Linked DNA regions of Homo sapiens: region 1 is linked to region 2. The links come from fine-mapping of genetic effects on gene expression. A gene starts in region 2. The other region holds a variant in brackets. All regions are shown on one strand. Distances are from middle to middle. Region 1 overlaps LOC105375799 (a long non-coding RNA gene). Region 2 holds the start of ZNF623 (zinc finger protein 623).

Region 1 (2,904 bases), 33 kb after region 2:
AGCCTGAATGACAGAGTGAGACCCTGTCAAAAAAAAAAAAAAGGCAAGGTTTTCTTCCAAGTGGGAAGAAAGATGGTGGATAGGATTTTTACGGAGTGTTGAAAGAGCTACTTGGAGAATCAGAAAGAAGATTAGTTGTTGGGAGGCACAGAGTGAGTACTGAGAAAACCAAGGGCCCAACTGAGGCTTGAAACTGCCAATTCTCCATTTACTGTCTTTCAGCTTCAAATACATACTTCATCGCCTGCTTGGTGAAAATGGAGCTGGGCCCTAAATTGTTTCTCCTTTAAAGCAGGTATGACGTTAAGCTTTGTAAGTAGAGGGCACTGGAGGGACCCTGCAGGAGGAAAGTGCTTCTCTTCCTGTTCTGCACTTTCTTCTGTTTTCTTCTTGTTCCTGCCATGTGGCTGCCAGCACACTCAGTGTTGCTCACCCCCAGCCAACTTCACTTGCAATGCCATGGGTGGATCCCCGTGAGTCTTGCAGATGCTCCACTGGTCAGCATCCAGCCTCAGCCTGCCCCAGAGAGGTGTTTCCTGCTTGCCAGTCCTGGCCAGGCTCCCTACCTGCCACCTTCAACCCCTCTACACCTGCAGGAGTGATTGCCCATTGACTGTGGACCAGCTCTGGCTACGGGAAAACCAGAGAACCTCTCCATCATCCATACTGCACCAAACAGCATCTCTGCAACCACACCTTTTCCAAGATTTGAGCCCCAGCCTTGGGGAGGAGGCCATCTTTCACATTTTCTCCTTCCTTGGGAACTCTCTGTCAGCCCAGAGTATTCTTTTGCATTATCTTTAGCCCTGTACAGATAATTCCATTATAGTAAATAATCCTTTATATTAAACGTTCCTTGCCCAAATGACTGTGCAGTTTCTGTCTGCTGATTGATTGCGCCCTGATGCAGAAAGGTAAAGTAACTTGACATGTTGCACAGCTGGCCCACACAATCACACAGCTGAGACTGCACAAGGACAGCTTCCTCTCAAATGTGTTGGAAATAAGAGCTTGGAGTCGCAAAGAAAATGAGCACTCAAGGCTGGGCGCGGTGGCTCACACCTGTAATCCCAGCACTTTGGGAGACCAAGGTGGGCAGATCACGAGGTCAGGAGATCTAGAGCATCCTGGCAAATATGGTGAGACCCCGTCTCTACTAAAAAAAATACAAAAAATTAGCCGGGCAAGATGGCGGGCACCTGTAGTCCCAGTTACTCGGGAGGCTGAGGCAGGAGAATGGCGTGAACCCAGGAGGCGGAGCTTGCAGTGACCTGAGATTGCACCACTGCACTCCAGCCTGGGCAACAGAGCAAGACTCTGTCTGAAAAAAAAAAAAAAGAAAAGAAAGAAAAAAAAAAAAAGAAAATGAGCACTCAAATACTAAAAACACACACAAAAAATTAGCCAGGGCTGGTGGTAGACACCTGTAATCCCAGCTACTCAGGAGGCTGAGGCAGGAGAATCGCTTGAACCTGGGAGGCAGAGGTTGCAGTGGGCCAAGACTGTGTTACTGCACTCCAGCCTGGGCAACAAGAACAAAACTCCATCTCAAAATACAAACAAAAAAAAACTTCCACTGGCTTTTTTTTGAGTGCTCACAAATTTGCCTTCTCAGCAAGGCAAATTTACTTCTGCAGAAGAGTGCCGCTCTCTCTTCTGGCCACTGGGAGAGCACACCGAACAAAGCAGGGCAGGGGTGTTTATCCCTAAAGCAGTCACGCCCTGCTACTGTGTCCAGTCCCCATTGGCTGGAGTCGCACCACACCATCTAAGCCGATCCCCATTGGCTACTTCA[A/G]ATGGATCAGGGGCGGCTACAGTGGCCAAATAAGGAACAGATGTGGGTTTTACAGGTTGGGCTGCAGATTGGGAACAGATGTGGGTTTTACAGGTTGGGCTGCAGATTGGGAACAGATGTGGGTTTTACAGGTTGGGCTGCAGATTGGGAACAGATGTGGGTTTTACAGATTGGGCTGCAGATTGGGAACAGATGTGGGTTACAGATTGGGTTATAGATTGGGAGTGGCTGGAAGGTTGTTTGCTGTAAAGTGGAACCTTTGAAGAGGAACTCACTGTATCTAACAAATGTAAATCCAATTATGTCGAGTCTACTTCAAAACTTCCTGCCAGGTGTGGTGGCTCACACCTGTAATCCCAGGAAGTGGGCACGTTTTCCATGGCCAGAGCAGGAGGAGGAGAGGAGTGGGGAGGTGCCACATACTTTTTTTTTTTTAATTCTCCAATTTAAAACTTTTAGTTAAAAAGTAAACTTTAATGTTGAAAATGCAAACTTGGGGCAGGTAGAAAGATTACACACAAGGCTATCACTTCACATTTGGAGGGTTGCACAGCAGCCGGGCAAAGGCGCTCCTCACTTCCTAGACAGTCGGGGGACCCGGGCAGAGACGCTCCTCACTTCCCAGACAGTGGGGGTACCCGGGCAGAGGTGCCCCTCACTTCCCAGACGATGCCGAGGCTGGGGTGCCACATACTTTTAACAGACCAGATCTCAAGAGAACTCACTATCACCAGAAGGGCACCAAGTGGGAAATCCGCCCACATGATCCAATCACCTCCCACCAGACCCCACCTCCAGCATTGAGGATGACAGTTGACATGGGATTTGGGTGGGGACACAGACCCAAACCATATCACTCCTGAAGAGCTAGGACTACAGGAATGCTATACCTGGCTAATTGTTTTTCTTTTTTTCGTTTGTTTGTGTTTTTTTTTTTTTAGATGGAGTCTCACTCTGTTGCCAAGGCTGGAGTGCAGTGGTGTGATCTCAGCTGACTGCAACCTCCCAGGCTGGAATGCAGTGGTACAATCTTTGCTTACTGCAACCTCTGCCTCCCGTGTTCAAGAGATTCTCCTGTCTCAGTTTCCCGAGTAGCTGGGACTACAGGC
Region 2 (2,904 bases):
AGACTCTGTCTCAAAAAAAAAAAAAAAAAAAAAGTATTAAGTGCCAAGCTGCAGCCATGTGTTAGCTGTTGGTGGGGTTGAAGTGGCAGGCGTCAGGTGTACAAGGCAGATTTTGATCTGTGACAACCTGCTCAGGCGGTGTTCTCAAGCTCTTTGGGCCTGCGGACAGGGAGGCTGAAAGGTCTGTAAGCCCTGTGGGGAAGAGGCCTCAAGCCCTTCTCGCCTTAAGAGCTGGGTCCCATGGTAAGCTGGCAATAGGGTTGCAGCAGCCAAGGTCTCCGGGCCTGGATGAGAGGTGGGGTCGCTCAATGTAGGGCTTTCACACACACCCCTGGAACACAGAAGCCTTTCCAAGAGCCGGGGAGCCCCTGGAGAATCACAGCAGGAGTTCCACATGGATTCTGCCCTGGAATTCCTGTAGAAGGTCCTTGGATGAGGGCACGCGCCTAGCGTGTCCCCCTTGGCCACAGCTCCTTCTCCCACGTTGCTTCTCTTCCTTTATTCACCCTGGTACCTGGCCTTGGTACCTGGGCTGTCCTCCTCATCAAAGGGACAATTCAAAACTCTGCAGTTGATTTTAAGAAAGTAGGTGAATTTATTGGCTGGGAAAGACTTCATGTAGTTTTGCACTTTAGGTTACTTCTAATTCTTTGTTTGCTTCTGTCAAAATTTAAAAAGGACCTATTCAAGTGGTCAACTGACAGGTCATTAAGTACACTTGGTGATAAACTGCTGTTATGTTTTTTGCATATAAGTCAGAAAGAGCTAAAGAAATTGAGCGTCGGCTGGGAACAGCGGTTCACGCCTGTAATCCCAGCACTTTGGGAGGCCAAGGCGGGTGGATCACGAGGTCAGGAGATCAAGACCATCCTGGCCAACAAGGTGAAACTCTGTCTCTACTAAAAATACAAAAATTAGCTGTGCGTGGTGGCGCATGCCTGTAATCCCAGCTACTCCAGAGGCCGAGGCAGGAGAATCGCTTGAATCAGGGAGCCATAGGTTGCAGTGAGCAGAGATCACGCCACTGCATTCCAGCACTCCAGCCTGGTGACAGAGCGAGAGTCCATCTCAAAAAATAAAAATAAAAATAAATTGAGCGTCATTGCTAAAACAAAATTCCTCCCAATCCTATCTAACAATTTAGGTAAACAAGTTTCCTCAGTGCTAGCAGAAAAATGGAAAAAGAAAACCCAAAATACGAATATAATGTTTTTTTGGTGGGGGGGGGGGGCAGGGGAATGTAATTATTTCGATTATTTCGGACTGTGACTCATTCTAGCAATGAGTAATGTCTACCAAGAATCAATGAGCCGGCGCGGTGGCGCGCGCCTCTGGTCCCAGCACTTTGGGAGGCCGAGATGGGAGGACCACCTGAGCCCGGGAGGTCGGGGCTGCAGTGAGCCGAGATCGCGCCACTGCACTGCAGCCTGGGCGACAGAGCGAGACCCTGTCTTAAAAAAACCAAAACCCGAAAACCAAAAAACTCCACAGCGCGCCGCTTCCCCACTTCTCTGGGGCGCAGAGAGGTGAAGTTTGGCCCTCACGGTATTTACTTCCCCTGGATCCTCGCCTCCTGAGAAGCTGGTCTTGGGCTGCGGTCGGACCTCGCCGCGAGCTCCAGACCCGAGTTTCCGAGCCCGCGCTTCCCGGCCCGCAACCCTCCCAACCGCGTAGCAACGCCGCTCCTGCCGGACACCCCTGGCCCCTCCGGGGGTCTTAGTCCCCGGGCCCGGAAGTCCGCACCACTGAGAGGGGAGCCGATCCCTGGCGCTCCTAGAACGGCGCAGGAAGTTTCCCAGGCGGGGCCTCTCGCGACTTCCGGTCGCGGCGGGCTGGCGGCGGTGCAGGCTTTGTCGGCTGATCTGTGGGGCCCGCGCCGGCGGGGTCCAGTCAGCGGCTGCAGGGTCGGGCTCGCGCCGTCCTCTCCCCGCCCGCGCCGGGTGAGTGGCGCGTTCCGGACGGGGGCGGGCAACGCCTTAGCCGCAGCCCCGGCTGGCTCCGGAGCCCGGCCGCCTTGCCAGGGCACAGTCCGCCGAGAGGGCCGGGCGGGGTCCGCAGGCCGCTGCCCGCCCCGCTAGGGCGTCCAGGAGCGGGGCCTTGGCTAGTCAGTCTCCCGGACGCAGCCACGGCCGCCCCCGCGAGGCTGCGGCGTCTCTCCAGCGAGCCCGCCTCGGGCCCGAGCCTGGGGTCTTGTCCCTGAGGAGCGCCGTGTGGGTACCCCTGGTTCCCTCTCCTTCCCCCCGCCCTGAGCCCAGGCCGGAGAGCCGCGGGCTTGAGTGTCCGTGTCGCAGTCTTCAGGTCCGCCAGGCCTGCGTGAGGTTGATGCCGCAGACATGTTTTACGGTGTGGCAGGACTGGGTGTGGGCGTTCCCGCGGCTGTGCCTGAACCCTGCCTCCGCTCCCTGGGGCCTCGAGGCCTCTCGGTGCTGGAGGAGATGCAGCGCCAGCATCTTCTGTGCTGTTGGGGATAGGGGTGGGGAGGGAAACATGATGAGCAGAATTAGAATTAAGTACAAGACTTGGACCTGGAGAATTCCCAGATGGGGAGAGGTGGTGTGGCTACGCTGTCCTGCTTTTTCTTGAAGGTACCCTTTTCCCTTCGCGTCTTTAAGAATCCCAGTGGCGTTCTCTGTGCTTCTGTCAAGGCTGTCTTGCTCCCTTCACACACAGGCTACGTCATGGTCCAGGGACTCTCAGGGTCTGGGCAGCGCCTGGATGCTGGCCTCAGACTCATAGGTAGTTGGTGTGAAGCAGCTCAGGGAGCTGCCGAGCTTGTCTTCGCTGCCTCAGGGTCATGGAAGATGACCCAGGAGAGGACACAGGGGGCTCGTCGTTGTCCTTGGGCAGAGCCCTGAGCAGCATGCCGGTAGCAGAAGCCAAATGGCCTGGGTGGGGCGGGGGCAG

Evidence for each region.
Region 1: its variant is fine-mapped to the expression of ZNF623 in lung (TOPMed, PIP above 0.99).

Annotation. Positions count from the first base shown.
Region 1 is chr8:143,667,623-143,670,526 of GRCh38, forward strand. It overlaps LOC105375799 (a long non-coding RNA gene), which reads left to right. Exons shown (of 4, transcript XR_928737.3): 3 at 223-295; 4 at 597-865. Among named protein-coding and RNA genes, the nearest start is that of ZNF707, 15 kb to the right of the region's middle. RefSeq lists enhancers at 1,424-1,924, 1,925-2,425. The variant A/G (reference allele first, on the strand shown) is at 1,796.
Region 2 is chr8:143,634,206-143,637,109 of GRCh38, forward strand. It overlaps ZNF623 (zinc finger protein 623), which reads left to right and starts at 1,814. Exons shown (of 2, transcript NM_001261843.2): 1 at 1,814-1,940.